Homo sapiens: one gene and its partner. The protein of the gene in region 2 interacts with the protein of the main gene of each other region in a biochemical or structural test. Each region holds a gene or a part of one and is shown on either strand. Other genes may lie near its edges.

Region 1 (16,927 bases), on a different chromosome or scaffold from region 2:
TGGGATACAGCAAAACCAGTGTTAAGCATAAAGTTTATAACACTAAATGCCTACCTCAAAAGTTAGAAAGATCTCAAATTAACAATCTAATTTCACCCCTTAGGAACTAGAAAAACAAGAACAAATGAGCTACAAAGCTAGCAGAAGAAAAGAAATAACTAAAATCAGAAAAGAACTGAACAAAATTAAGACATAAAAGTCCACACAAAGAATCAATGGAAATAAAGTTGGTTTTTTGAAAGGATAAACAACATCAGTAGATCACTAGCTAGATTAAAAAAAAAAAGAAAGCTCCAAATACACACAATCAGAAATGACAAAGGTGACGTTATAACCAATCCCACAGAAATACAAAAGATCCTTGGAGACTGTTATGAACACCTCTACATACACAAACTAGAAAATGTAGAAGAAATGGTGTATCAGTCCGTTTTTCTGCTGCTGATAAAGACATACTTGAGACTGGGCAATTTACATAAGAAAGAGGTTTACTGGATTTACAGTTCCACGTGGCTGCGGAGGCCTCACAATCGTGGCAGAAGGTGAAAGACACATCTCATATAGTGGCAGACAAGAGAAGACAGCTTGGGCAGGGAAACTCCCCCTTATATAATCATCAGATCTCGTGAGACTTATTCACTATCATGAGAACAACACAGGAAAGACTTGCCCCCACGATTCATTTATCTGCCTTCGGGTCTCTCCCACAACATGTGGGAATTTAAGATGAGATTTGGGTGGAAACACAGCCAAACCATATCAAATAGGTAAATTTCTGGGACCACACAATCTCCCAAGATTGAATCAGGAAGAAATTGAAAAACTGAACAGACCAATATCAGGTTCCAAAATTGAATCCATAAAAAAGAACCTACCAACCAAAAAAAAAAAAAAAAAAAAAAGCCAAGGGCAGGTGGATTCACAGCCAAATTCTACCAGATATACAAAGAAGAGCTAGTACTAATTCTACTGAAACTATTTCAAAAAATCAATGAGAAGGAACTCCTCACTAACTCATTCTACAAAGCCAGCATCACCCTGATATCAAAACCTGGCAAAACACAATGAAAAAAGACAACTACAGGCCAATATTCCCAATCAACATAGATGTGAAAATCCTCAACAAAATTTTAGCAAATTAAATCCAGCAGCACATCAGAAAGTTAATATACCACGATCAAGTAGGCTTTATTTCTGGGATGCAAGACTGGTTCAACATCCAGCAAATCAATAACTGTGGTTCACCACATAAACAGAATCAAAAACAAAACCATATGATCATCTCCATAGACATAGAGAAAGCTTTTGATAAGATCCAACATCCCTTCATGATAAAAAGCCTCAACAGACTAGGCACTGAAGGGACACACCTCAAAATAATAGGAGCCATCAAGCTCCTATTATTTTTGGGACAAGCCCACAGCCAACATCATACTGAATAGGCAAAAGCTGGAACCATTCCCTTTGAGAACTGGAACAAGAAAAGGATGTCCACTCCCACTACTCCTATTCAACATAATACTAGAAATGCTAGCCAAAGCAATTAGGCAAAAGAAAGAAATAAAGTCATCCAAAAAAGAAAAAGAAGTCAAACTATCTCTCTTTACAGACAATATGATTTTATATTTAAAAAACCCTAAGGACTCTACCAAAAGGCTTCTGGAGGTGACAAACAACTTCAGCAAAGTTTCAGGATGCAGAATCAATGTACAAAAATCAGTAGCATTTCCATACACCAATGTTCAAGCTGAGAGCCAAGTCAAGAACACACTCCCATTTACAATATATACACACACACACAAACCTTAGGAATACATGCAACCAAGGAGGTAAAAGATTTCTATAAGGAGAATGACAAAATACTGCTGAAAGAAATCACAGATGACATAAACAAATGGAGAAACATTCCATGCTTGTGGATTAGAAGAATCAATATTGTTAAAATGGCCATACTGCCCAAAACAATCTACAGATTCAACACTATTCTTATTGAATTACCAATATAATTTTTCACAGAATTAGAAAAAAAATGGCCGGGTGTGGTGGCTCACACCTGTAATTCCAGCACTTTAGGACGCCAAGGTCAGGAGTTTGGGACCAGCCTGGCCAACATGGTGAAACCCCGTCTCTACTAAAAATACAAAAAAATAGCTGGGCTTGATGGTGGGTACCTGTAATCCCAGCTACTCAAGAGGCTGAGGCAGGAGAATTGCTTGAACCCAGGAGGCGGAGGTTGCAGTGAGCCAAGATCACACCATTGCACTCCAGCCCGGGCGACAGTGCGAGACTCTGTCTCAAAAAAAAAAAAAAAAAAAAAGCCAGGGCATCACAATACTATAAGGCATAGTAATCAAAGCAGCATGGTACTGGTACAAAAACAGACACATAGACCAATGGAACAGAATAGAGAACCTATAACTAAAGCCCCACACTTACAACCATCTAATCTTCAACAAAGTTGACAATACAAGCAATGGGGAAAGGACTCCCTATTCAATAACTGGTACTAGGATAACTGGCTAGCCATATACAGAAGAATGAAACTGAAACTATTTCATTCTTTCCCCTACCTTTCACCATATACAAAAATTCACTCAAGACAGATTAAAGATTTAAATGTAAGACCTCAAACCATAAGAATCCTAGATGAAAACCTAGGAAACACTATTCTCGACACTGGCCTTGGCAAATAATTTATGACTAAGTCTTCAAAAGCAATTGCAACAAAAACAGAAACTGACAAGTAGGACCTAATTAAACTAAAGAGCTTCTGCACAGCAGAAGAAACTATCAATAGAATAAACAGACAACCTACAGTATGGGAGAAAATATTCCCAAACTGTGCATCCAACAAAGGCCTAATTTCCAGAATCCATAAAGAACTTAAACAATTGAACAAGCAAAAAACAACCCCATTAAAAATGCATGAAAGACATAGACAGACACTTCTCAAATGAAGACGTACAAGCAGCCAGCAAACATGAAAAAGTGCTCATCATGACTAATCATTAGAGAAATGCAAATCAAAACCACAATGAGATACTACCTCACACCATTCAGAATGACTCTTACTAAAAAGACAAAAACAACAGATATGATGAAGCTGCAGAGAAAAGGAAACATGTATACACTGTTGGTGGGAATGTAAACTAGTTCAGCCACTATGAACAGTAGTTTGGAGATTTCTCAAAGAACTTAAAACAGAACTACCATTTGATGCAGCAATGGCATTACTGGAGATATATATATATATATACACAAATTATTCTACCAAAAAGACACATGCACTTGCATGTTCATCGTAGCACCACTTACAATAAATAGCAAAGACATGGAATCAACCTAGGTGCTCATCAGTGGTGGGTTGAATAAAGAAAATGTGGTACATATATGCCATGAAATACTATACAGCCATAAAAAAGACCCAAATCCTGTCCTTTGCAGCAATATGGATGCAGCTGAAACCCATTATCCTAAGCAAATTAACACAAGAAAAGAAAACCAAATATTGCATGTTCTCACCTGTAAGTGGGAACTAAACATTGGGTACTCATGGATATAAAGATGGCAACATTAGACCCTGGGGATTTCTACAGAGGGCAGGGAGGGAGGGGTCAAGGGTTGAAAAACTAACTACTGGGTACTATGCTCAGTACCTGGGTGATGGAATCATTTGAATCCTAAGCCCAGCATCACGCAATATACCCAGGTAACAAACTTGCACATGTATCCCTGGAATCTAAAATAAAAATTGGAAAGAAAAGGATTTTTTTTTATTATTGCCCAAAGAATACTTTCATATATTATCAGAAGATATTCTCTTTTTTGTATATTGAATTTAAGTCAGAATGATTTAGGTAATGTTTAATGCATTGATCTCTTTTACCTCAAAAAAGTAATACTGTCATAGAAAGCAGAAGGAAATACAAGGAGGTGCTGGAGATTGATAATCTTCTTGGCAGGAGGACACCCAAGTCAGCAGTTTCTTATATAATCCTATAATAATAAAAGCAGTTCAAGAATGGTCCAAAAAAAGAATTAATTGCTTACAATAAGATCAATATCTTTACTTTGGACTAATGTGTACAACATGATTAGGAAAACACTGTAATTTCAACAGGCAAACTTATGAATAAGCAATTCAAGTAAAAGACAATACCTAACAATGGAGAAAATAGTAATCTAAGAAATGCAGAATTTAAAAAAAATTATTAACATTTGCTTTTTTAATTGACAACTTTTTTATTCATTGGTAACATCTATTTCCTTTGAAACAGAAGAGGAAATAGATGAAAACTGAGGGATATTGGTTTTCTCATATTTTGCTGGTAGAAGAGTAAAAACAACTTGTAACAAAGTTATAAGAATGCTCACACACTTTGAATTAGTGATTATGCTTCTAGGGATTAATCCAAAGTAAATTATTCTTACAGTAAATGTGTACAAAACGTCCAAGGCACTACTACTTCTAATGACGAAAGAGCCCAAGTGTCTAACAACGAGATTGTCTACAGAACATCCATATGAGGAAATATTGTGCAACCATTAAAAGGGTTGGTTGTATAGATCAATGTAAAATATGAAGAGGAAGGCAAAATATGCAACATACAATATATATACATCTTTCAACATGAAAAGGGTCTAGAAAAGATCAATACAAGTTATTTAATTATGGAATTAGAAGGATGAGAATAGGAGTGGTTTTGATCACTTCTCTTATTTTATGCAGTTCTATTGATTTTATAATAAAAAGCATGATTATGAAACTATTAAACATTATTGAAATATAAATTATGTGAAAGTTATTTATTTCTTCTTAACACCCTTTACGTTCAGCAATACTGGTTTGATGAAGGGGGTTTTTATAGTCAGAACTGAAGCTCAATGAGTGGTAATGGATTAAGTCAATGCTTCTCACAATGGACAATCCTCCTCCTGACAATCCATAAACTATGCCTGTTCATTTTAGCACGCTTCAGTGGCTTCTCAGACTCTGACTCCTAGGTTAAATCATTCTGCCACCACTCTATGAGTGACAAGGGATTCACACTCACTTGCTCAATTTCCTTCCTTGGCCTTAACAAAAATGACCAAGTGTGTCTTATGGGAGTCAAATTGACCCTCTAGTACATCCTATTCTGGGTTGTAAGTCAATATTGAAAGATTCAAAAGCCCTCTATGTTTTTGTTTTTTCTTTCCGCTTCTATTAGGAAAGAGTAAGACTGTTAAGAAGACCGAAGCATGTATTAATGCTGTGGCTATGAGAGGCCTCCTGCTGCAGAAACACACTTCCCTACATCAAGAAGGAGTAACTTCAGGTTGGATCCTGTGTGGATGATCTTGGTGCTAAGCAGAAAAGAAATTTGGACCTTGAAACCAGCAGTTCAACATATATACTTTTTGCAAAATTTCCTTGATTTAAAATATTTGTTATTTTAAATATACAAAACATTTTAGAAAATCTTAGAGTAAATTTTAGTCTTAAAGCCAGAAAATAAGTTTATAGCCATCTAGATATTTTGCATATTGCTCTTACAGCAATAATGGTTTGGTTCACTTTATGAAAAATAAAATGTATTAAAATATAGTTTAAATGCTGTTCTTGATCCAAGTATTGATTTTTGTCACTCATTGTACTTCACTCATCTCGGTAGCTCTCAGAGAATTATAATAGTGAGGAATGAAAACTGATTCAGACTGAATCAGGCAACTTAGCCCTGAGTGAAACTTTCAGTAATCACTTTATTCACCATTATACTCACAGCAACAAGCACAATGCCTAGTATGTAATTTTAGATAATAGTCTTAACAGTGAAGAATTAGTGCATGCTTTCTGTATGTTAGGCATACAACACATGCCATACAGTTATGATGAACTCATTTTGTAACAATCATATAAGGTAAGTACAATTATTCCCAATTTATGAATGAGTAAACTGAAAATCTTACAACTAGGAAGAGGCAGAGCAGAGATTTGAAAACAAGTTATAACACATATCCCCCTAATATGGTAAGCCCTAAATAGATATCTGAAGAATTAATAAAAATTTAGCTTGCAGTGAGCTGAGATAGCACCACTGCAGTCTGGCCCGGGTGAAAGAGCAAGACTCCATCTCCAAAAAAAAAAAAATATATATTTAAAGATAAGTCTTCAGAGTCAGACTTCCACCTGGGGGTCTAGAAATCTGAATGCTATGCCAAATAACTGGTGGTGGGCACATTTTAGAAGCCAAGTATGGCAACTCCTGTCACAAAAGTGTCCTTGTGGAAAAGACAACTTGGTTTGTTTCTGTTGACAAAGTCAAATCAAACTGCTACCACTTCTCTCCAAAACTAACCTTAACCAGTTTTTTCCCAGTGATAATTACCTGACAGCTGTTAAGTGTTTAAGGAACCCCATTAATGAGTACCCCTCCTCTCCTGAGTTCTGAACCAACTGAAAATTATGATAAAGGGTTAAAGCAGATAGAGATTAAAACATTCACAAGCTCACCATTATTACTGATGGAGCTGACATTAGATAAGGTGGTTGCCTTCTTTTCCCTAGAACTGAAAAGATTGACTGCTGTAGGCATTTGTCATTAAGCTTAATGCATAGCTGAGAACAGTAGAAAATGCAAGATTTCTAAGAGTAAATTTACTCCAAAAAGTATCAAGAAGAAGGGGATTAACACAGAATGTCCAGGCTCTACTTCCAAATACATCAACCAAATAAACCACCGCACTTCAGTAGAACAAATGAGAAAATGAAGATGGGCAGCAATATAAAGGCAATGGAGATTTCAGCCCTTGATCTAGAGCAAGGACCTAGAGAGGGAAGAAGTGTTCTCCACCAACAGTAGCTGTTACTTACAGAGAGCCTAATGTTACTTACAGAGAGCCTAATGTGTCTTCTGATACGCTATTCTGAGTGCTTTTCCCTCATTAGCTTATGCAGTCATCATATGAATTTTGGGAGGTACTTACCATCATTAGTCCCATTTTGCCAAGGAAGTAATGGGGCTTAGAGCACACAAATAAATTGCTCAAAGTCACACAGCTAGGCATGATGACATGGATTTAAATCCTCCAAGCACAATCAGTGTAATGCTTTTTAAGTTATTTAGATTTTATCATGGAAATTTAAGCCATTGAAGAAGTATTGCATACACTCCATTATATTAGTTATTGTCAATGTCATGGACTAGGTTTGTGTACTGGATTGTAAACATCTCCCTGTGGGAAAAGGCCACTACACAAGACACTGGAATATAAAATCCTGGTACCATGCATGATGTATATAACCAGCCTCATCTTCAGGGCATGGTGGGTTGTGTGCCTAGGGCTCTGTTTTTACCTGAAAGAATGTAATGTACAGACTTTGGCTGAGGAAGGTTCTTAGAGCTCACTTTCATTTGGCTCTTCAGAGGAAAGCTGTTTATTTGCTTACAATGCCCAGAATATTGTCTGCTTTTAAAATTTTTATATAAAAGGCTTTCCTTGGTCTGTTGACCCTTGAATATTTTTGTAATTTAGCTTTATTCTTTAACTTTTATAATGCTTAAACCTGGTTTGTACTTTTTCTGCAGATATTTGACTTATCTTCCATGTTCTATATTAGTTTTACTAATGAAAAACAGGAAACTTTGCAAATGAAGAAACATTCTTCCCAAGGGTCATTTATTCTCAGAGAAGTGCTGTCCCACCCTCCTGGTGGTTACAGCTAGGAGAGCATTCCCAGTGAACTGAAAAAGTTCCCATTCTGTTTCTAGGCAATCATCTCTGGATTACCATGGCTCCTGCAAAGCCAATGGAGCTATGTGCTGAAATCTCTTCACCACAAAGCAAAAGTCTAACCCCAACGTTCACCTAGAGAGTTACTGAAACTCTGTTATCTCCTCTTTAAAACAAAATATTTTTTATATGGAATAGCAGCAATTAATAGTTACAGTTTTCAAACACACAACTATCTGACATTAGCTAGGACCACTAATCAGCTCATATTCTGTATCACAAAGTATATAGGTAGAAAGTTCTATTCAGGAAGATTCCTCAGTACTCTCTCACCATGCAGCCTTTGCCCTCTTTTAAAGGGAAGCAGAATAGGGAAGTCTTAACTAAGCTATTTGACTCCTGGTTCTGTAAGAAATCTTAAATAAACCACTTCTTTTCCCAAAATAAAATGCCCCAAAATAATTTTCTTTCTGTATAATTAGTTCTCCTAATTCCCTTCCCTCATTTCACCATTGCCAGAAAGTGACTGGGCTTGGGCTAGGGCTAGGGCTAGAATTATCCCATCTAGGCCTTTGAAACTGCAGGAGTATCTAGAATCACTCTTATCACTCACTCTTACCCTAAAGGTCTCTAACGTGCCTTGTGCTGAGGCCAGCCCAGATTGTGAAAACTGCGTAAGAACTGGGAAGCCTTGACACACTACATGCAAATATACTGCTCCTTATTGACACATTGGAGTGATGTAGACCAGGTTTCAAAGTCAAGCTAAGACGTCTTTCTATGAGTACTTATTAAATAGGACAACAAATAGATATATCCACACCCCGTTTGAACTTATATCTTAGCTCTGTCACTTCCTATTGGGATATCCTTGAGCAAGTCACTTGAGCCTGGTGTTCTCATCTACAACAAAGAGGAAATGGTATTTATTCCACAGAATTCTTACATGAAGAAATTAGAAATTGTATCTAAAGCATTTAACAGAATTACTGGATTATTAGAAAGCTCTCAACAAATACTTATTGTAATTATACTTTTCTATGATCTTCAAAGGATATAGCAAAACAGTCATTGGTCATTAATTCTTTACAGCAATGCCAAAGGATAGGAAAGTAAATTTAAAGATCTCAACCCAAACGTTCTCTGATTTCCCTATCATCTGCTTACAAATATCCAGGCTTTTATTTCCAATTCAACACATACGGTTTCTTACATGTGTTAGAAATGTAGTTTCTTACACGTGTTAGGCACTGGAGTTAAACACTGAGAAGAATAAAGAGTGAATCTATGATTCAAAGATTTGTTATCTGGGCTTCTTTGTGTGGGGGTGTGTTGCTCTACTCATTTACGGAGAGGAGATATATTATTTATAGTCCAGAGTCAGTTTTACAGCAGTAAATCTATTATAAATATCCTGCTCTTTCATGCTACTTTACACAAGTGATTGATAGCTAACACTTCCACAGCTCAGCTTCTCCATCTAGCGGCCTGAGTAAAACAGAAGCTTGAAAGCAATTCCTAACCTTCCCCTAAATTACAATGGGCAGATTGATTTCCAACTCACCCTACCATGGCTCTCTGGACTCAAAGACTCTTTTAGACAATAGTGGAACTAATTAAGCCACACATGGAGCAGCATCCAGGCTGTGTCTGCTCAGGCTGCCCCAACTAGGGTCTAGGATCTGTTCATTCATACTGGTGGGAAGTCAACAATAGCCCTACTCACTGGCTAAGCACCCTGTCCATGTGGTCTCTCTTTCACAATGCTAAGACATTCTGGTCCCCTGCTGCTAGCCTCTAGGTAGTGCAAAATGTGCTGAGGCCACTGAGGAAGGGGCACTTTTAGGTTAGATTGATTGTTTTTCTTTTTTTCTGAAGGTAATAGGGAAGAGAGAGGTTAGTTATAATAGTATACCAAGATTCCTTCCGACTCCCACACATACATACCTCTTTTTCTCGTACACAAAATGGCAGACCACTGGTTGTCATCCCAGATTTTCCATACACAAGGAAGAAGCATTCAATAATTTGGAACACATACTCTATTTTTTATTGTAATTATCCAGCCTGGGAAAGGAAATGGTTTTGAAAGAGGAGAATAGGAGAAACAGACAAGGGTACCCCCAGGTTTCTTAGATCTATATGCTGTGGAAACCTGATTTTCAATATAAGCTTTGTTAAGAATATTCTTTTTTACTTCAATGCTTCATTTAATTTATTGATGGGAGGGTTTTCCTGAATTTCAAATATTTACAGAATAAGAAAATTTACCACCCTAACATCTTTCCTAGAGTCAATTACATGAGGGATTCATGAAAAAAATTAATGGAGCTACTATTGGGGAAATAGAATTAAAAGCAAAATCTCCTGCTATTTCAGAAAACCTCACCACAAAAATAGAAGAGAAAGAAAACACTTTTATTTCTGAATATTCAACCAGAATGTAATGCACACCACAGGCAATCCCCTAAAGAGATTACTAAAACAGAAAGAAATCTTCCCCTTTTATATGCCAAGAAGATATCCTCCACTGCACACATTTTCTCAAGACAAACAATGACTAGTATTCACATAAGAGGACTTGACAGCACCATTTGTCACATAGCGTTTATCTGAAATTATTTTTGTAATATATTTGCTAATTGCCCTTAAAAACTAATTTCTCATTTCTTTTTGGTTGGAGGTAGATTTGCAATTTGGAGTCAGGTGTCAACTGAAGTTAGACTCCAGAAAATTGTATTCTGGAATACTTGAGCATGGAGACTGCACATGGACATTAGGGTGTGTGCTCTGAGATAAACGAAAGCTACAGTGAGAGAACATAACCAATCCCAAAGATAATTTCAAAGAACAATGACAGCAAAGGTTAGGTGGGAGTAGTATTTGACAATGCTTATTTGATATTGTCTCTCAGAGCTGCAAACTAGATTATACAAGTCATTAGCGTCAGATAGCTTTAAAGTTGTGACCTTCCTTTACATGAATTTTCTAGCCAGTTTCCTATCCTTTGCAAGAGGTAACAAAACATGAAACCCTAGAATGTGTGAGTTCAGGCATTAGGTATATAATAAGGAGGCTCTCTGTCCAGGGCTGCTTTCTGTCTTGCAGGGGCTAGTGAGTCTTGTGTGTTTTTATTTTATTCTCACATTTGTGTTTTTTTAGAAAAGTGAATGATCAATAATGGCTTATCTTTTATAATAAAATCTTCCATTTTTAATAAGGTGCTCCTGGAAATCCCTCACAGAGCCAAAAGGAAGTTTGGAGAGCAGCCATAAGGATAAGAATGATGTGAGATGAATCTGGGGTTGCACAGCTAGTACCCTAGTTTCTCTGAAATTGTTTCTTCTAAGCCCACTCCCCATCCTTCTCCTGCCTGTTTTAGATATGACCTTTACATTACTCAAGGACAAGCAATAAAATATTTTGCACTTTGTTTTATTTCTTTCAAGGAACTTCACAAGAGCAGTCCTGTATCTGCTTTTCTTACCATTGAACCTACAGTGCCCAGCACATAGTAGGCACTCGACACATACTTGTTAAAGGAATGAACAAACAGATGAGTGACCAAACTGGAAACAACCATCAAATACAAGGATAATACAAAAATCCATGATTCCTGTCCCGAGATTTCTTTCTTTTTTAACCTTTTGTCTGTTGAGATTCATTTATGTGCAGTGAAGTGCACCCTTATTAGTATACAGTTCTGTGAATTATGAGAAATGCATACAGTCATGTGGGCACTAACACAATCAAGATAAAGAACAACAACAAAAAATTTCCTCCTGTGCTTTGAAAGTCAACACCTCCCCCACCTTTTGCTCCTGGCAACACTAATATGTTTTCTGTTCCTGTGGTTTCACCTTATCTCTAATGTCACAGAAGGTAGGCTTTAAGTCTGGTCTCTTTCACTTAGTGTAATGCATTTGAGATTGATCCAAGTTATTGCATGTATTAATAGTCCACTCCTTTTCAATGATGGTCAGGATTCTGTTGTGTGGATGTAATATAACACAGAGCTTATTTAGCAATTCACTCAATGAAGATCAGTTGGGCTATTTCCAGGGTATTTCGGCTATTATGAGTAAAGCACATATAAAAATTTGTACACACAGTCTTAGAGGACATAAGTTTCACTTGGCTAAATGCCTAGGAGTGAAATTGCCAGGTTGTACAGTAACCCTATGTTCAATTTTATAAGAAATTGCCATACTTCTGAGATGGGAGAGTTCCCTTGACCCCTTCTCGGGACTTGCGACAGGGGTGTGGCCTACTTACTTGGCCACCACCATGCTCAAACTCTCTGTGGGAGCGGGAGCACGCAGGCAAGCGGGTGCCAGGGCTTCGATGAGCACTTTTGGGCTCCAGCCCAACAGCAGCATTTAGGGATGTGTTACAATTCATGCTCTTTTAGCAGTTGCCATCCGTGGACAGCTAAGTGTTAACCCACTCAATGGAGAGTCAGGGTGGCAGCCTTTTACACCCTGCCCTGTTGGTACCCAGGTTCTTGTTCAGCATCCAGGAAGAATCAGGTTGCATGAATGGTTTGAAAGTTGATGGATGTGGACGATTTTATTAAATGGTGGAAGTGGCTCTCAGTGGAAGGGGAGCTGCAAAGGGGATGGTGCAGGAAGAAAGTGACCTTTCCCTGAAGTCTGCTGTCTCTGGCCGGGCTCCTCCCTGAAGTCATGCCACCTGAAGTTAAGCCACATCTCTGACACTCAGTTGCTTCTTCTCCTCTTGATGTTCAGCCGCTTGTCTGTCTGCCAGCTGAGGTCTGGGGTTTATATGGGCACGGGATAGGGGGGCTGGACAGGCTAAAGAGTAACATTTGGGCAGGATAACAGGGATAACTGTTCTCATTTAGGGCTTCGGTTTCAAGGCTTGAGGGTGGGACCTTTGCCAGTGAACCACCCTCTTCTACCCAGTAAAGCCCTGCCTTCTGTCCTTATCACTTCTTTCCAAAAAGGCTGTCATTTTGCATTCTCATCAGCAATGCATGAGACTTCCAGTTGCTTTGCATACCTTGCCATACTTGATATTGTCAGGGTTTTATAGCCATTGTAATAAGTATGTAAAAGTGTTCCATTGTGGATTTGATTTACACTTCCCTAATAACTACAATGTTTAGCATCTTTTAATGTTCATCTGTATAGTTCCTTTGGTGAAATGTCTGTTCAAATATTTTGCCCATTTTGTTACTGGGTGTTTGTTTTCAGATTTGAGAGTTGTTGATACTATATTTTCTACAGGTCTGTGGCTTGACTGTTTTAACCTCCTTCTGACTTTTCTAAGAAGACAACGTGATTTATAAACGTAAATATCTGTAGTGGAAAAACTCCCATGGCCCATCTGTAATTTCAGACCTGGGATTCCCCAGAGGTTCGAAGCTCTCATTGACGGGTAGTTGCTGGTTATGGCCAACAGCCAGGTTGGTTCAGGCACTGACATGTTAGGACATTCTGCACATGCGTGCCTCTAACACTCCTCCCCCAGCCTCTTCCTTCCCTCTGCAGAGACACCCTTCTCCTTTCTGCTGTCTCTGCACGGGTGGCCAGAGCCACACAGCCCTTTCTTTAAGTCAGGAGTTGCCCTGTCAGAGCACAAGGCAAGAAGGAAGTGGTAAAGGGACGGAGGGGAAGCCCTGAGAGGACTGAGAGGATGGGAAATTCTCTGCTGAGAGAAAACAGGTAAGTCTAGACTCCCTGTGGGAGAGCAGAGGAGATGGGACAGGACAATACAGCAAGGAAGAGAAAAAGAAAGCTAGTATACAGTTAGCACACTAAGTTGGGGTAGAAAGTAGTTGGGTAAGGAAACTGCCAAGCCTTCAGTGCCTACTCTGTGCCAGATACCACATTAAATTTCCCATAGGTTTTGCCTTCTCCCAAGAATCATGGTGAGCAGCTGATGGAGAATAGCTGAAAGGTGGAAAGACTTTACCAAGGAAGGTCTATATAATAGGTTACCACCTAAGAAATGAAACAACTTTCTGAAAGCCCGGGAAGGAGATGCTCTCCTGAGCTCCTCATGCTCCACAAGGAGGTCAAAATCACCACCCTCTTTCAGCCACTATTTTAAGTTTGAAATAAACAGCAAGCTTCCTGCCACCTTGAGTCTTCCTTTGATGTGCACTCCCTGCAAGCAGGTAAGCAGAGGTCATCTAGATTAAATAGGCACAGAACTCAGATTTACTTTCTGGACCTCAGCCTCTTTATTTTAAGTAGAAATAATAATACAATATCTACCTTAGAGAGTTCTAGTGTGTATTGTGCTAGCATAGTGCCTGACATAAAGTAGGGTTCAAAATTAGAAGATATTTTCTGCTTTCTTTTTCTGACCATCATCTTCCTTAATATCAAAGCCGTGCCACCAAAATAGTGCCACCACAGACAAGGTAATCTCTAGGGTATAAAGTGGGGTGATCTAGAGAGAGTAAGCGAGCCAGAGGGGGTCTTCACAGGGTTATGTTTGGAATCCCTGGTCTCAGTTCATGCTACTGGAGAGTGGAACACAGGAAAAAATGGTAGCCCACTTTTGACCACTTGCCGAAAAGAGGATTGGTGGTCCTGTGGAATATCTCATGTCCCTTCCTAAGAATCATGTTGTCTGAGACTTCTCTACCCTGGGTTGTCACAGCCCCTTGTCAATCTTCTACTCTAGCATTGTTCTAACAATTATATAAATTACTATTTTTATTACTAGATATGAGATGCTCAAATGTAGTGATTGTTTCTTATTTATCTTTGAATTCCTGGTTCCTGGCATTGTTTCTGGCATATCACGTGCACTGAATAAGTGCAAAAAAACTTTAAAAAAATTTTTTTACTTTAAAATTTTGTTTTATGTAAGAAAAAAAACCTTTTTCCAAGGTGCACACATCTTATGCTATTTGGACTTCTTATGGTTTTTTATTTATTTTAAAGAAAATTCGATTTTAAATCTAGAAAGCTTTTTGGTTTCTGCCATTGCATTCATGCTTAAAATTCTTTGCTCTTCCTAAGATAAGACAAATCAACTCACATAAGTTTTGATTTTGTTATTTTACATTTGGCAACATATATTCAATATATGGTGTCAGATGTAAATTTTTTTCCAAATAGTTGATCAGTTTGCCCAACATCTTTATTTCTATGATGATTTAAAAGGTCTCCCTTGAACCAAGTGCAGTGGCATGCACCTGTAGTCCCAGCTACTCAGGAGGCTGAGGCAGGAGGATTGCTTGAGCCCAGGAGTTTGAGGGCAGCCTGAACAACATAGCAAGACCCAGTCTTAAAAATAAATTCATTAAAATAATTAAATAAAATGTTTCCGTTAACGTATTCAAAAGTCTTGTATATATTGGTATCTAATTTTCATTGTCACCCCAACACCCAGTTATCATCTAGTCAGCATACCCCCCCAACCGTGTCTCTCCAGATCAAATAAGCTAAGAAGTCAGGGAAATTTTGCACAGAATAGAATGGCACTCATCCCTTCATGAGAGGAGCTCAGTCTCAGAGGAAGAGACCTGCCAGCAGCAAACCCAGCTTTTCCCCCTTAGTGGCTGTGGATCCTCAGACCAGTTGCCTAGCATTTTGGGCCTCAGTTTCCTCATTAGTATAAAAAATATAATGATAATATCTATCTTATGGATTTATTCTGGGATTAAATGAAATATAACACACAAAATGATTGGCATATAGTAAGTAGTGTTTAAGTGTTAGTTTCTTTATCCTCATACTCCCAATTCCCAACAAGTGGGAAGATGGGTATACAGAAATCTAACCCAAACAATGAACCAATTTATTTTCTTTATTCAATCCTTTTCTTCTCCTTCTGTCCCTTGTTCTGGGCCTCCATGCTTTCTGTGAAAGATGGTGTGATTTACACAAGACAAAGCCAGTACCTTTCCCCATTACTTGTGCATAGCTCCTGGAACTGCACCAAAGAGATGGTAGCTGAGGACCTCAGGCCTCTCTCTGGACACGGATACTCTCAAGGGTCATGACGAGGATCCCTGGATATTTGGGATCAGATGATTTAGGATCACTTGTTCATGGAGGTTGGAGAACATCAGTGGGCTGTTGCTGTGGCAATGGAGAGCATGTCAGATCAAAGGTAGCTTGCGACATGTGCTTGAGGAAACAGTATTAACATGTGTGAGGGCAACCAGTCAATTTCTGAGTTACACACAAATAGCAGAAATGAGGAAAGTCGGAAAAATTATGAAAAGAAGTGACAGGCCTGTTTAGGAAATACTTAGCCTGTTTCTGATATGTTGAGTTTCAGGCGGCAGCAGAACACTCAAGAGATGCCTTGGAATGTGAGAATGCAAAGCCCCAAACAGAGAACATCCAGGTGAGAGCAAAATCAACCAAACACCCCCCAGACCTTGCCCAAGGAGAACGAAGTATGTCAAGCCCTGGACTTCACATCCCAGTGAGAGAGGGCCCTGTTTAGACCAGTAGCAGTTGCAATAGTAACAAATGTGAAGACAGGACAAAAGATAAAATGCTTGAAAACTTTGGACAGGAGATATGCTACTTTGCTAGAAGCCTAATGTAACTCCTAGCAACAGGAACTAAGACCCTGCTAGTCCCTGTTATGCCCTGTTATAAAATAAAAGGTCTTATTTCCTGTTGTCATTTTGTTTGTCTATCTCAGGTACCTTTGTGCTCAACCTCCACCCTAGCCATTTTATTTTAAGCTATAGGTGTCTATTTCTGAAGTGACCACATGCCCCATGTTACGACAATTTTTAGAAAGTTTGTGGAGACACCATTGTGATTGCCCTGATGTTGTTAAACAAAGACCACCTCATTAATTCTTTTTGAACAGACCTTTCAAATGTCCAGCCCTAAAGAATTCTCTCTAAGGAAAGGAATAATTAAAATATGGAACTAATGTTCCAGGATCCAAGAATCCTAAGGGCTGACAAGGTCAGTTTTTCTGTGGCCTGTAAAGTTATCTGTGCTTTTCACATGGTTTCAGGAGGAGATTTTGAAAGAGGAGCAATTAAAAAACAAGCACTGTTGTTATTTTCTAACACCAATGCCCGCGTTAGGGGCTGGAGACCCAGAGATTCCTTTCAACAGGGTGAATTTTTTCAGTTCAAGTTGAGAATTACATATTTTCAGGGGTATCATTGGGCATATTTTAAGGCATACAGTTCAAATGATGAAATAAATCAGAAGGGCCACGGCATTATAACAAGGGAGAGGTTGGGTAGACCAGAGAG
Region 2 (16,249 bases):
GGATTACAGGCACCTGCCACCATACCTGGCTATTTTTTATATTTTTAGTAGAGATGGGGTTTCACCGTGTTGGCCAGGCTGATCTCGAACTCCTGACCTCAAGTGATCTGCCCGCCTCGGCCTCCCAAAGTGTTGGGATTACAGGCATGAGGCACCGCCCCGGCCCCTGCTCTCTTAATCTAATTCCCCTGCTTCCTTCTCATAAGGGCCTGTGGTTACACTGGGCCCACCTGTATCATCCAAAATAACCTCCTTTCATCTTTCTCCAAAGTCCTTCACTCAATCAAATCTGCAAAGTTCCTCTTGCCTTGTAAGGCAACATATGCACAGGGTTCAGGGACTAAGACATGGACATCCTTGGGGCCATTATTCTGCCTATCATGCTTGGCATTCAAGGTCCTCTGCCGTCCAGCAACAACCTGCCTTTGCACTATCCCTCTGGTATCTCGTGTCCAAACACACCACATTTCTCACCATTTTCTCAGACATACCCTGAATTTCACTGCCTCTGGCCCAGAATGCCTTTTCCCTGGCCATAAAATCCTATTTATCTTTCAAGCACAACTCAAATGTCAGCTCCCTGACATGCTCAGCTGAGATCACGGCTGAGTTCCTTGGTCAGTCTGCATGAATGCCTAGTAAAGTGCTCATTTTGGTGAGTCTTCCATCATGGCTGTGTGAGTGTGTGTCCATCTCCAGCATAAGACTGTCAACTCCATGGGGCAGGCAGGGACTGTTCTTGTACATGTTGTATATCACTGCCCCCTTATATAGAGTGGCTGGAATGTGTGTTCAATGAACAGCACACACACATACAAATACACACTCTTCTGTTCAGGCAATAATGCAGAAGAAGGGAAAGAGCTCTATGACCACTAATTGTTTTTAGTAAGCTGTCTGTAACAGTGAAAAATAGGATTATATTCCGTAATTTTTGAACCAGCAATTAGGTCTGGTTCAAAAATTATGGCATATCGAAATACTGGAATATGGTGAAACTTTCCAAAGTGATGAATGTAAAGGCCATGCATGCAACAACATGGAGACAAAGTACCTATGGAATAATGCTGGGGGAAAGCGCTCTGAATATACTTGCTGCCCATTAATGCCAGCTATTCTCCTAAAGCACAGACATAACTGTGTGAGTCTTCTGCTCAGAGCCTTTAATGAGTCCCCGCTGTGTAGACAGAATAGGCTCCCCCGCCTCAGCTTGGTCTACATAAGGCCTTCCTCATCTGGCCCAAGCCTTTCTTTCCATCATTCCTTTCCACTCTGCTGTGTGGCACAGATGGTCTGCCGCAAGGACGTCAAGGGTCACACTGCAGTGACCACAGGGCCCAAGATATTCTGGGACCATCCCAATTTAAAATATTCTATAGCACTGTCACACCATGTCAGATTTTTTCTCAAGCCACCGTCAACGGTTTGCTAACCCCTGAATCTGCTGTGCCCTGCTGCCTTTGCTCATGCTGTTCCATTACTAGGAACATCCACCGACCCCTCCCTACCCCTATCTCCATGAGTCCAAGTCTTACCCATATTCCAAAGTCTGACTCTGATGCTACCTCCTAAATGAGGCCTTCCCACATCCTCCTAGTCAGAATGAGTCTCTCCTTCTGGTACCACTCTGACAGCATTTATCACAGTCTGCCCCATACTAGAGCTGGGATGGCAGACAGGGTCCCAGGACTGCCACTGCTGCCTCCCACCTATCACTTATATCAGTCCCTGACCACAGCATGCTTTTGTGCTGAGGCCAGGTGCAGCACCAGGATGTTGACACAGCACCCCCAGGCACCACTAGCAAGTAACTGAAACTGTTAGGTGAGCTGAAATCTCTGTTCCATCCCTGCCTGGGGGTACTTCTGTGCCCATTTCTCCAGGCTAGAGTAAGCTCCCAGGGAGCAGAGCCTGCCCATGTTGGAAGTGCTCAGTAGTGACTGCCGAATAGAACGCCTACACGGAGTTCACTGGAAGGGCACATAAACACAAAAGCCGCTGTGTTACTGGGGTGGGATGATGAGTGAAGTCTCTTCTCTGCTTGCATCTGTACAGTTGTTTCCGTAAAGAGTGTTTTCAAATGGAGGAGAGACAGGGAGGAGGTTAACAAAGATGAAGGAGGGAAACAGCAGCACACACCTCACAACGGGGTTTCCGTGGTACAGGATGTAAATGCCAGCCTCCTTATTGGAAAAGATTTGATTGTTCCGGATGATGCCTTTCCCATTGCCAAGGACGACAATGCCAGAGCGAAGGCCATGGTGGATCTGGTTACACTGCAAGTGAAAATGAGACACCACAGAAGCCAGATCAGACACGTCAGCGAAGCAGAGTGCCCAGGTGCCGCCCACACCTCCGCGGCAGGATGAACACAGTGGAGAAAATGACGTCACTGTAAGAGCCCTAGCCCGTGACAAAGGGAATGGGTCACACTGCCGCCCTGCCCTTCCTGCACCAGTACACACATGAAAACCTGTAAGGGAGACTATGAAGACTGGAGTCTTCGCTGCCCAGCCTCTTAGGAGGGCTCTTGGTCTTCACCTGCAAGGCAGGCTACTGAAAGTTTCAGAGCCTCTAATGAGTCCCCTAAACACATAATCATTTGGCCAGGCCATAACTTCTAGGGTCCAGGGAGGCCATCTCTTGAGGAAAGGCAGCACCCCAGTGCAACCAAATGTTGGCCAACTGCAGTCCTAAAGGGGCCACATCCAGAGAGGGGTCACAGTTGTTTGACTTCTAGTCCTTTCTCATTTAGGGAGGGCCAGCGGAAGATGCAGACACTGGGGGGCCAAGCTGTCCCATGGGGCATAAGGTCTTAGAAGGTGTATGAGCTACAGAATGCCAAGAGATATCTTTTTTTTTTTTTTTTGGTAGAGACAGGGTTTTGCTTCATTGCCCAGGCTGGTCTTGAACTCCTGGCCTCCAGTGATCCTCCCATCTTGGCCTCCCAAAGTGCTGGGATTACAGGTGTGAGCCACCACACCCGGCAAGATATTCATTTCTAATATCTCTTTGTGCGAATGGGAAAACAGGCCCACGATTATATAGTACATTTGTGGAAAAGCCAGATCTGAAATCTAGTTTTTCTCTTTCCCATTCCAGTTAGTTGCTTTTGCACAGTGACTTAATATTTTTAGATTAGAATAATAATAAAATTATCTCACTCTAAGTTAATTTATAGCTGAAGTCCAATTCTATACTTTGTAAATTGGGAAGTTAGCTGTATCTCTTCCAAAATGATTTCGCAGAAATAAAGTTCTAGTTGGCTTTAAAGTGTTTCGTGTGCAAACTCTCCTTATTCTTACTCTTTCCAGATTTTTCCTGAAGGATTTGGCAGGCTCATCAGAGCAACCACTGCCTAAGAGAAGTCCCGCACAGGGCTGAAGAGCTCCAAAAGGAGTATGCAGCAGCATTTCCATCCCTACACCCTTTCACAACGCCAGGACTAAAATATACCACTCCCTTCCCCCTCCACCTGCTATCCCTCTGTCCTCAGAAGGGCAAACCCCTCATCTCTCTAGCCAGAGGGGCAATAATTTCCTAAGCCAAAGCCATGCATCAACCACCAGCTGCATGGTAGAAACACAGTGAGGGGAAGGGGTTGGCAGGAGACACTGGCTAGCTGTGTGTATTTTCTTTTTCTTTTTTTGAGACAGGGTCTCGCTCTGTTGCCCAGGCTGGAGTGCAGTGGCACAATCATGGCTCATGACCATGCCATAGTTATGGCAGCCATGACCTCCCAGACTCAAGTGATCCTCCCACCTCCCACCTCCGCCTCCCAAGTATCTGGGACGACAGGTGTGAGCTACCATGCCCAGCTAATTTTTATAATTTTTTGTAGAGACAGGGTCTTGCTATGTTGCCCAGGCTGGTCTTAAACTCCTGGACTCAAGTGATCTTCCTGCCTTGGCCTCCCAAAGTGCTGAGATTACAGGCATAAGCCACTGTGCCCAGCCTTCTCTCTGTATCTTTATGGGCAGTTAAGATATGATGGGTTCAGCATTACCCGTGAGTCAGACTGCCTGGATTCAAATCCCAGCTCTGTCACTAGGTGTAGGACTTTGGGCAGGATCCTCTGCCTCTTCAGGCTCTATATCTTTACTATAAAATAGGGATGATAATAATTCTTCACAGGGTTCTGTAAGCATTAAATGACAAGTAAATATCTATGAAGTGCTTAAAAAAGCATCTGGCGTATAATAAGCATTATGTATTAATGGTGGCTATTATTTTTTCAAGCCCATAAAAAGTCTGTTATATTTCCCAACTCCTAGGAAATCTGTCTCTCAGTATACATGTAACAAAATTCCTCCCATACCCCATAAATCTGTGTAAAAACAAAATAAAAAACCCCCAAACCCCAAACCTGCTTCTCAGGAAGAGCCAGAGCAGAAAAGGAGCTGGTCTCTCGTGTCACTGGCCACACAGTCTAGGATTTTAAGTGGTTTTCACACGGGTAGAAAATCAAACTCAATATGCCCTCACAATAACCACGAAACAATCTTCAGAACTAAATACCCGAAATGTCCTCTTACACAAGTGAATAAACTAACTTGGTGGGTTCGCTGCTGTTGTTTTTGTTTGTTGTTGGATCCAAGTGTCTTTAGGGCAGACATCACTCTCTTTAACCTTATCAAACTCAAAGCCAACCACAGCATATGAGGGCTGAGGGCCCTGTGAGGTTTCCCTGTCTTTCTGGTCCTCCTCCTTATTAACGGGGAGATGACCAGAAAATGACTTGTCCAAAGTCACTGCTAATACACAGACAGAGACACAGAGTCACAAGGACACGCAGAGGACAGAGCAGGAGCCACCTGCAAACAGGAAGCACGTAAATACAAGAGGGCAACGTGTATTTAAATATCCTCACAAATGGTTTCTGAAAACCAAGAGTCACCCTGAATAGGGAACGAACACAAAGTACCAGTATGAGTGGGTTGGACTTTTTCCGGATGTCTACACCAGCCTCTGCATTGTGGTAAATGTTGTTGCCGGCAATCAAGCCACCGCCCTCCAAGCGAAGAAAGATGCCTGACGCTCGGCAGCGGTAAATGTCGTTCCTGAGCATGATGATCTAAGCAGAAAAGAGAAAGCCATTTATTTTCCTGTTACAAATATTTTTTTAGAAACCACTGGAGGAACACCTGAGTCTTTTCCGCACCACCTGATCCATGCAGTTTACCCCGTAGGCAAGAGAAACGCCTCAATGCTGGCACAGCCACGCTCCCACTGTGTGCTCCCAGGACACAGCCATCTCCAGGCCCTACCTGGCTTTGCCCTGCAGGCTCCTTAGCGGTCTCACATTGGTTCTTTTTTTTTTTTTTTTTTTTTTTTGAGACAGGGTCTTGCTCTGTTGCCCAGGCTGGAGTGCAGTGGCATGATCTCGGCTTACTGCAAGCTCCGCCTCCCAGGCTCACGTGATCCTCCCACCTCAGCCTCCCAAATAGCTGGGGCTACAGGCTAATTTTTGAATTTTTGTTTATTTTTATTTTTACTATGGATGTGGGCTGGAGTAATTTTGTTGTTAACTTTTCTATTTTTTGTAGAGATGGAATCTCACTATGTTGCCCAGGCTGGTCTGGAACTCTTGGGCTCAAGCAATCCTCCCACCTTGGCCTCCCAAACTGCTGGCATTACAGGCATGAACCACTACACCTGGCCCACACTGGTCCTTTAACTAAAACCTGGACCAAAGCTTGGCCCTGTGCTCTATATTCAGAACCTGCAAGCAGCATAGCTGGATGATGGGATAGAAAGGACGCTTAGGGGAAGATGGGACTGAGTGGTCTTCAAACTTTACATGCACTAAGTTTGCATGAAGATTTCCCCAGGGGTCGAGGGTGCAGCTACTTTTAATGAAATAAAGTTCCAGGTCCACCACTTCCAATGCACCTTCACTAAAATCCACCTGTCTGAGACGGCACGGACAGTAAGGTACCACACAGGTTCTCCTCTCCCACCTTCCCTTCCACTTTATAAAACAAAGGCCTGTTCTTGCACATCCTAAATCTTTCATGGTGTATCACCCTGGGGTGGAAAACTACTGAGACTCCAAATGAAGGGATGATTAGAGATATTGGTATAACAAAGCCTCCTTCAAACAAGTTCCCATAACCAGCAACCTGCTAATAAAGGGATATATTTCCAATTACATTTTCTTTTTATGTTTAATAAGTACAGTTGTCTCCCCCATGTCTGTGGGTTCTGCATCCATGGATTCAACCAACTGTGGATTGAATATACATTATTAAAAATAATAAATAATAAAATTGAAAAACAGGCCAGGTGTGGTGGCTCACGTCTGTAATCTCAGCACTTTGGGAGGCCGAGGTGGGCGGATCACTTGAGGTCAGGAGTTTGAGACCAGCCTGGCCAACACGGTGAAGCCTCGTTTCTACTAAAAATACAAAAACTAGCCAGGCATGGTGGCAGATGCCTGTAGTCCCAGCTACTCAGGAGGCTAAGGCAGGAGAATCTCTTGAATCAGGGAGGCAGAGGTTGCAGTGAGCCGAGATTGTGCCACTGTATTCCAGCCTGGGCGACAGAGTGAGACCTTATCTCAAAAATAAAATAAAATTGAATTAAAAAAAACAACAACAGTATAGGCTGGACGTGTTGGCTCATGCCTGTAATCCCAGCACTTTGGGAGGCTGAGGCGGGCGGATCACCTGAGGTCAGGAGTTTGAGACCAGCCTGGCCAACATGGTGAAACCCCATCTCTACTAAAAATACAACAAATTAGCTGGGCGTGGTGGCTCATGCCTGTAGTTTCAGCTACTTGGGAGGCTGGGGCAGGAGAATCGCTTGAACCCAGGAGGCAGAGGTTGCAGTGAGCTGAGATCACATCTTTGCACTCCAGCCTGGGCTAAACAGTGGAGACTCCGTCTCAAAAAAAAAAAAACAAAAAAAACACAACCAACAAACAAAAAAACCCAGTAGAAGAGCTATTTACATAGCATTTGCATCGTATTGGGTATTATAAGTAATCTAGAGATGACTGAAGTGTGGGAGGATGTGTGCAGGTTAGGTGCAAATACTATAACATTTTATATAAGGGATTTGAGCATCTGTGGATTTTAGTATCCTGGAACCAAGCCCCCACGGATACCAAAGCATGATAATATATAAAAAATCTGGAATGTTTATCTATGCTGTCTTAAACAATTATAGATTAATAATAAAATATATTATTATAAATTGTGTACTACTAATAATATATTGCATTAGGACAAAATTCTGTGAAGACTAAAGTAGAACAAGAGTATAAATGGTAAGGTTTCAGCTTCTGCTTAGGATGGAGAAAGTAGAAAGAATATACACAAACATGGACTTTCTGGTGGAACCCATCAGAGCTGAGGCTGCTGGACAACCGGCTAGCCTGAATGCTACAAAAAGACAGGTGCCTTTCGGAGCGTGCAGTGAGCCCAGATCGTGCCACTGCAGTCCGGCCTGGGTGAAAGAGTGAGACTCCGTCTCAAAAAAAGAAAGACAGGCGCCTCCAAGGAGACGAGGCCTGAGCACTTCCCTGCTGAATGCAGGGCTGCATGTGTCATACAAGCCAGTAAGAACTCAGCTAACATTTTCAATGCACTGTTAAAGACCAGCTGTGAATTAGTGTGAGTGCAGAAACTCTGGGAGTAGCTGCACCTGTTCACTTCTCTGTGGCCTTCACTAGGTGTTCATGGAGAAAACTGGGGGCAGATGAGAGACTGGAGACAGCACCCTCCTGACGCAGGCTGGGGACAAAAGTGAGAGAGGCATTAAGCCCCTCTCCTGTGTTCTTTCCCCCTAACTCTCTTACAAAACAAACCGTATGCACAGAGAAACAGCGGGAAAACACTCTTATCTCTGGGGGTGTTGGGAGGAAAGTGACTTAGGCCCAGATCATCAGAGGTCCCCTAGTGCTGGGGGTAGAGCCAGGGTCACTGAAAAAGTCCTGCTCTCAAGACCACAGACACAGCACCTACCTAGACTAAGGATGACCCAGGACAAGAGAGAAACCCTGCCATCACGTAGGGTGACAAATAATGGCAGTCTACTGCTGAGGGAGGGCGAGAGCAGCGGAGATCGCCTCTGAGCAGCAGGCACAAAGGAAGATCTGAAGCGGAGAAAACTAGCACGAGGTAATGCTGGAGAGAGCTGAAGCCTACGGGACGCTGAGGATAATCCTATCATCACCATAATTCAAACGGGCTCAGCTCCTAACTAGATCGACCTCCTAAGAGCCAGGCAAAAGAAGAGGTGTGCCCATTTCCAAACTAAATACTACAGAGCTCAGTCCCCACTGTCCTACATGAGATATCTGACTTCCAACTAAAATTTATGACACATAAAGAAGAAAATCACAGTCGGTGACACTTCTTTTTTTTTATTTTTTTTTTGGAGACGGAGTCTTGCTCTGTCACCCAGGCTGGAATGCAGTGGCGCAATCTTGGCTTTCACTTGCAACCTCCACCTCCCGGGTTCAAGCAATTCTCCTGCCTCAGCCTCCCGAGTAGCTGGGACTACAAGTGCCCGCTGCCATGCCTGGCTATTTTTTTTTTATTTTATTTTAGTAGAGACGGGGTTTCACCGTGTTGCCCAGGCTGGTCTCGAACTCCTGAGCTCAGGCAATCTGCCCGCCTCAGCCTCCCAAAGTGCTAGGATTACAGGCTTGAGCCACAGCACCCGGCTGACACTTTTCTTCTTGGAGCCTCAAGCAACCAGGCTCCTCCTGCCAGCCTTTACCCTCCTGGGATGTTCTAGAGGACAGAGCCAGGTGACAGCCTTCTGTGGGGGAGCAAGGATCAAGGCCTTGCTTGAAAGGGTGAAAGGGTGTGTCTCCCCTTACTTCTGGGCCTTCACACACACCTCCTTTGCCTCGCGTCTTCACCCTGCCGACTTAAGGGGCAGAGCCAGACTTTAACTAGAAAGCCATATTCTCAATAACTATGCAAGGAAGAATGCCCTCCTTGAGGGCTTGAGCCAGATCCTTTCATCGTGGTAGTCACGACAGCAAAGCTATTACCTTTCCCTTTTTATTTGGCCATTTTCTTTTATGTATGTGTACAGGAGTCTTGCATTATGCTTTCAAAGTAACATCACCTGAAATCCTCTTTGGAAGTGGGCTGGGTAAAACACAATTAAATTTAAATTAATTAAAATGTGATTGCTATTAACCATTTTAGAAGCCTGCAACACTCATGAGTGACCTTTGTACAATGTTCTTTAGTTTACTGAATACTTCCGGCATGGGACCTTCCAATAGCCAGTGAGAGAAGAAAAATAGGGATGCTTATTTTCATTTTACGAAAGTGAAGGTCATGTTCATAGTGAGTTAGTGGAGAGGTGAGACTCGAATCTAGGTGCTATGCCATGCTTTCTTCTGCATGGGCTGTCTTTCCCTTCAGAAGGCCTTCCTGTCATCAACCATTTACAGGATTTGCAGATTGTCCTGTGGTGCCCTAAGTCCCAGCACATAGAAGGTGTTGATTGTCGCAGTGGCTAGAAGGACTGTTCTTAGCATAAGGCCCAAATGTCTCAAGGGGGATTCCAGGTCTGGGTAAGGTAGCTTTTGCTCACCCCCAGCTTCATCCTTCAACCTAGCCCCACCGCATGGTTGAATTCAACCTCACACCCAGGCTCTGGCGTAGGATGTTTCTGCTGTTGGGACACCCTCACTCTCCACCCCTTCTTATCACGTGTCCAATTTTCCCTGGACCTTCTTCTCATTGTACCCAGCACAGACGTTTCCTCAACAACCCTACTCCAGTTTGGAGTGAAGGTAGTAATCATATCTCCCTGAATTTTCTCTTATCCAGGCTTTGTTTCTCCTACTCCGACATGGTGAGATATGTGAGCAGCAGCATGACATAGTGAAAAGAGGCAGGAGACCCGAGTTTCTAGTCTCAATTCTGCCTAACTTGCTATGTGACCCTGAGTAAGCCACGTTCTCTCTCTGGGCCTCTCTTTCTGGGAAATGAGAAAAAGCGTTTCTGTCCTTTCCAAATCAGATGATGGGCATGACGTCAAGCGTGCGTGAATAAGTTTAAAGAAAATTATTTTTAAAATGCAAAATAGCCCCATCAAACCCTTCCTACATATAGCCACAGGAGCCCCCTGACCAATCTAAAGTCATGACAGCACCTTGCTATTATGTATACACCGCACTGCGTAAGTCAGGTTCCGGAAGATGTTTCCTTCCATCTTGGCTCTGCCGTGGGAGCAGACGAAGACGCCTCCCTTCCCGTCCCGGAAGAGGCACTTGCGGATGAGGCAGCCCTGCACGGAGTTGGCCAGTGCCATGGCCTCCTTATCCTTCTGCAGCTCCTGCTGCAGTGAGTTCAGCACTAGGCAGCTGGGCAGCTGAATGGATGCTCCTGGTAGAGGTGGGCCCAGAAATGAGCCCCCCAATACAGGGCGTGGGCCCTGCACTTGGTAGGATAGTCTGTACATCAGCTGGTCCTCATCTTCATCCTCACCGCTGGGACTCAGGCCTCCATCGCTGCTGTCCGGGGTCTGGGCCACCCTTTCACCATCACTACCCACCTCTGCCTCCTGTGAGCCAGCCTTGGAGCCTGGCTTTGGGGAGCTAGAGGCTGGGCTGGTAGGGCTCTGGCTGCCCTCGATAACAATGTCACAGGTCTTTGGGCTCCAGGCCTGGTCCCGGCTCTCTAGGTCCAGGGACATTAAAAAGTCAGAGTCCTCTGTGGGGAGAAAAGTGGGTGAGGACTTGATAAGCCCTAGTAGATACTTGTAGGCCCAGTTCTTATCTGCAGATGGGTGACCCTCAACAGTCACAGAGTTGTTTTCACTGCCCACAAATTCACAGTTTTCCAGGACACACAGGGGCACGTTGTGCAGGAAGATATGGGTGTTTTTGAAGGTACAGAACTTCACTTGGCAAGTACCCGGGCCATGGACCTGGATGTGCCCGTTCTCAAAGTTGCAGTTGTCAAACTGGACGTGACCTGATGTTGTCTGGGGAATGAAAAGAAGAAAACGGCTGTAAGAGGGATGAGATTGGTTTTGGACTCTAGCTGCCCTTTAAGGAGGGTAGAACATGGAAAGGCCATTTGTTCTGCTGATCATCTTCCCCTCCCCACTGGGGTCTGGATGTCAGCTGTCCCCAAAAGGAACTGGGGAGCTGCTCTGCATCAGAGAGGGAGGGAAACTGGAGCTGCCCGCACCTCCATCCTTCTAATCTCAAAGGAAGGGAGACAAGTAGATGATGGCAGAAAAGTTCACACTGCAGCATGACTCCTCCTAAAACCTCAAGTCTCAATCACGTGCCAGGGCTAGGACAGGCAGTGAGAGAGGCCTAGCCGCATGTGCTGGCAAAGAGTTCTGACTGTGTGGCAACTGATGCACGTGGTGCACAGCAAAATATGTCTCTAAAGAGAGGGGACAAGGTATACTGCCATTGCCAGGAAGCATTGAACAGTGGTTAAAAGCATGGGCTCTGCCAGGTGTGGTGGCTCACGCCCGTAGTTCCAGCACGTTGGAAGGCCAAGATGGGCAGATCACTTGAGGTCAGGAGTTCGAGACCAGCCTTGTCAACATGGTGAAACCTCATCTCCACTAAAAATACAAAAATTAGCTGGGCGTGGTGGTGTGCGCCTGTAGTCCCAGCTACTTGGGAGGCTGAGGAATGAGAATAGCTTGAGCCTGGGAGGCAGAGGTTGCAGTGAGCCGAGATTGCGCCAGTACACTCCAGCCTGGGCGAAAGAGCAAGACTCGGTGTCCAAAAAAAAAAAAAAAAAGCATGGGCTCCGGGGGTTGACTGCAAGTGTTATCTTGGACAAATGACTTCACCTCTTTAAGCCTCAGTTTCCTTGTCTGCAGCATGGGGCTCACTAGTTCACAAAGCACCATGCTAGGCACAAACTTAGCACTCAATAAAAGTCAGTTATTATCATCTGGGGTCAGGGACACAAGGAGCAGAGTGTCCTCAAGAGTCTGGAGTGGGGATGGGGCAGTGCCAAACTCTCCTGCCTAATTCATTTGGGCCCCTTGGCTCTGTGGGCCCAACTGAGAAGCAGTCTTGGTGAGGCCCACTCACTCTCTATTCCTGAAAAAGAGCTGTTTCTGGATTTTATACATATTTCATCAGATGTATTTGAATCATCAAATGAGGGAGTATCTCATGATTCCATTTAATAATCCAGACGTACCTACCCCTTGAATAAGTTTTAAAATTGACCTTTGATAGATTGTCCCAGAATTTAAGCCCCCTTAACTTTTCTAATTTCTTCCTTATGGCTAACCTAATTTTTCCTTGCTATTTAAATCCATTTTCTCTCTAAAGATAAAAAAGCCAGCTCTCTGGAGATGCAGAGCCACTGCTAAGGTTCTCCTTAGAAGTCACTGAAAACTGCTGTGAAATCGCCTTGGCCTTTGCATTTTTCAGGCAAAGCCATCCCAGGCCCCCATGTCTCCTTTAGTTGAAAAACAATCATGGACTGAACACTAACTAATATATGTTATATGCTAAGCACTAAGCCACAGGGCAGGCTACAAACAAGTCTAACGCCAGGCCTCATCCCTTGAGGATCTATGACTATACTTCTGAGGGAGAAGTAGAGGCTGAAATCAAAATATTACTCTAAGAATAAATGTATTACAAAATGTGAAGGGTCTGGAACATTATTTCTTTCTAGAAACAAACTCTCCTTCTGGGCCTGCAGACCAGCACCAGAGAAGTTCATCAGTTCTTCTGAAATGCTCTAGGGCTAAAACACAAGCTTTTAAGCTTTCAGGTAACATAGCATGATGTAATTTTATAAGCATTTAGATGAGAAGGCCTGAATTTGAGATCTAACTTCCCTAATTACCCACTTGAGAAAGTTACTTACCAACTGTGACCTTCAGTAGCCCTCATTTGCAAAATAGGCATACCACATCTACTTCACCTACACAAATGTTTGCTGTGGGGGTCCAATGAGGTCACAGATGGAAAGTCACCTAGATTATGAATAGACTTTGGATCTTACTAAGTCTGAGACCTTGATGTCACTTAATCTTGCTGAGCCTCAGTTTTCTCATCTATAAAATCAGATGACATTACCTATCTCAGAGGCATGTGGAGAGGAACCCATGAGATAATGGCTATAAGGCATATGGCATGCACACACTACATCTGTCACAAATGACCAGTGGTATAAGGATCATTACAAACATGAGAGACAATTGTTATTGGCAATATACTTTTAAAAATCATATATATATGATTTTTTTTTTTTGAGACAAAGTCTCACTCTTGTCCTCCAGGCTGGAGTGCGATGGCACCATCTCAGCTCACTGCAACCTCCGCCTCCCGGGTTCAAGCGATTCTTTTGCCTCAGCCTCCCGAGTAGCTGGGATTACAGGCACCTGCCACCATGCCCCGCTGATTTTGTATTTTTAGTAGAGACAGGTTTCACCATGTTGGTCTCGAACTCCTGACCTCAGGTGATCCACCTGCCTCGGCCTCCCAAAGTGCTGGGATTACAGGTGTGAGCCACTGCACCTGGCCAAAAATCTTTTATTTTTTATGAGCAGGCAGGAAAGCGATATAATTTTTATTGACTACCTACATAATCCAAGTTTCTAGGCAATGTATAAGCTATAGACTGTTCTGCCAGGAACTACCAACACCTGGATACCTGCTTTACTTTGAACCATCTTCTGGCTCTGCATTCACGGAAGGAATATGTTGGACAAATATTTTCTAACCTTCTCACCATTGCCCTTGAGAACTAGCAAATCATGGTAAAAGCCTGCCCTTCCTTGATCCCACACAGGGTGGGGTTCATGTGCTGAAGGTGACTAGTCCTGTATAGCCTTTTTCCTCTGTGGCTCTCACTCTGGGCATGCCTCCATGAGCAGCTAATGGGCTCTCTGCTTCCTGTCACCAAGTGGCATGCTTCCAGAACCTGGCTTTCCCGCCGCTGCTAGACTGGTGGCTCCAGTTGGTCCAGTTGGAAAGGGAAGAGGTGCAAAAGAATTTTGGTTCCAAGCCCAAGCCATTTTTAAATACTGCTTTACCAAGAATAAAGCAGAATTCTGAACTCTACTGATCACTGTGCCTGTTTCTCAACTGGTTCAGCACTCAGAGGAGTATGAGTATAATAATAACTCTTAACTTTCAATTCCAACAAAAAAAGGGATTAAAAGCCCAGAAAAGAGGGCAAGCCTCTGGGGTCAGAACTAGAAAGGCCGTCTATTGATGTGGATACCCACCTTATACATGATGGGTGAGAACCAGGCTGGCGTGAAGACGAGGTTGCACAGGCGTGTGGTTGAGCAGTGCTGATCAATGCTGGCCAGCAGGGCCACTTCACCCAACTTCCCCTGCCCTACAATCTCCACAGGCACCTTCAAGATGATTTCACCTTGCTCTTCGTACACACCTGGGAAGAGCACAATTCGGTCATACAGGCTGGCCATGGCCAAGGCACTGCCCAGGCTGTCAAACTCACGGCCTGGCCCAACACTCAGGGTACGTCGTTCCCTCCTCCGGCGGAATAGAGAAAAGCAGATGGAAGACTCCAAGTCCAAGGCATTCTTGGTCCATGTCTTGGATGCAAGGTAATGCTGCTTGAAGGCTTCTCTCCAAGACTCAGGCTCCACATCTGGCTGGTTGGGCCAATTGGGATGGCGGCACTCGGTGCAACCCAGACACAGCTGCCGCCAGCGGGTGCTGTCGAGACTGAGGATCAGTTCATACCAGGCCCTGCATACCAGGCTGCAGCGGCCCAGGTCGGGAAGGTGCAAGTAGGCTAAGATCATGCGCCACAGCTCCAAGGGGAGGCCACCAGCCTCCATGGTCACCTAGGAGACAGACACAAAACAAAAGAGATTTCTGTCTATCCTACTTACCAGTCCCCCTTTTTTATTTTTTTGAGATGGAGTTTCACTCTTCTTGCCCAGGCTGGAGTGCAGTGGTGCGATCTTGGCCTCACCATAACCTCCACCTCCCAGATTCAAGCAATTCTCCTGCCTCAGCCTCCCAAGTAGCTGGGGTTACAGGCATGCACTACCACAACTAGCTAATTTTGTATTTTTAGTAGAGACCAGGTTTCTCCATGTTGGTCAGGCTGGTCTCAAATTCCCGACCTCAGGTGATCTGCCCGGCTTGGCCTCCCAAAGTGCTGGGATTACAGGCGTGAGCCACCACACCCGGCCTCCAGTCCCTTTCTTAAAATACCCCCTGCCATCTCCTGAGCCCAAGGGTGAGCAAATAAACAAGGCTCAGCCAGTCAGAGGACTCCATCCTTTCAATGTGAATCCTACTCTAGATTTTTCCACCAGGAATTAGCAAGGAAGACTCTCTTTTCTCTATGGTCAGATGTTATAAAGATATGACTCCAGGCCGGGCGCAATGGCTCAGGCCTGTAATCCCAGCACTTTGAGAGGCTGAGACAGGTGGATCACCTGAGGTTGGGAGTTCAAGACCAGCCTGACCAACATGGAGAAACCCTGTCTCTATGAAAAATACAAAATTAGCCGGGCATGGTGGTGCATGCCTGTAATCCCAGCTACTTGGGAGTCTGAGGCAGGAGAATCGCTTGAACCCAGGGAGGCAGGGATTGCAGTGAGCCCAGATCGTGCCATTGCGCTCCAGCATGGGCAACAAGAGCGAATCTCCATCTCAAAAAAAAAAAAAAAAGGATACGACTCCGGAACTGCCAGGTTCACCACCATGTGGAGGAAACCTTCTGGTATAAGAGCCAAACAGAAAGATGACCTTTAAAAAGAGGAAGAAAACAAGGTGAGCACATGTGTGTGTGTATCCTGATAGTACTGATTCCAGATTCTTAAAGATGTCTTGGAATCTACAGTTCTTCCTTCAATTTTGTAGGATATCCCAATGGCCTTCTACTAAATCCCCCTTTTGCTCAAGCTAGTTTGATTTGGGCTTCTGTGACTTGCAACTAGAAGAGTCTGGACTTCTAAGAGGGAACCCACCTTTGGCTGTTAGGGTCCTAGAGCTCTGGATCCCCTACACTCTCAAGGAAGAGACCTCTATCTCTTTACACTATTAGGAATGAGAACTGAGGCAGTGACTGTCCATCTGTCTGTCTCTGCTTGTTCCCAGATCAAGTAATTACTGTTTCCCCACGTGGGGCAGCCCCAGGACAGACTACTGCTGAGTCAGATGCTGTGGGTTTTGGTCCTGGCTCTGCCATTGGTTATCCTGAGCAGTTAATTGGTTATTCTGAACACCTATGGGCTGGCTGCCCAGCCATCTACCTACTTGCTTTTTCTGGAAAATCTTCTTCTCCCCTAC

What was found.
Region 1: of the proteins of FBXO10 (region 2) and GCSAM, one has a biochemical effect on the other in vitro, tested with the Homo sapiens proteins (one study listed by BioGRID).

The regions. Positions count from the first base shown.
Region 1 is NC_000003.12:112,129,565-112,146,491, reverse strand, and holds the start of GCSAM (germinal center-associated signaling and motility protein), read left to right. Parts: upstream 1-13,243; 5' UTR 13,244-13,371; coding exon 13,372-13,400; exon of another isoform or gene 13,401-15,964; coding exon of another isoform or gene 15,965-15,978; coding exon 15,979-16,047; exon of another isoform or gene 16,048-16,927. Other genes in the region: SLC9C1 (solute carrier family 9 member C1), read left to right, coding at 5,211-5,220. UniProt on the Homo sapiens protein: Involved in the negative regulation of lymphocyte motility. It mediates the migration-inhibitory effects of IL6. Serves as a positive regulator of the RhoA signaling pathway.
Region 2 is NC_000009.12:37,526,985-37,543,233, forward strand, and holds part of FBXO10 (F-box only protein 10), read right to left. Parts: exon of another isoform or gene 15,928-16,249; intron 14,791-15,927; coding exon of another isoform or gene 14,785-14,790; coding exon 14,200-14,784; intron 10,960-14,199; coding exon 10,126-10,959; intron 5,075-10,125; coding exon 4,925-5,074; intron 2,277-4,924; coding exon 2,140-2,276; intron 1-2,139. UniProt on the Homo sapiens protein: Substrate-recognition component of the SCF (SKP1-CUL1-F-box protein)-type E3 ubiquitin ligase complex. Mediates the ubiquitination and degradation of BCL2, an antiapoptotic protein, thereby playing a role in apoptosis by controlling the stability of BCL2.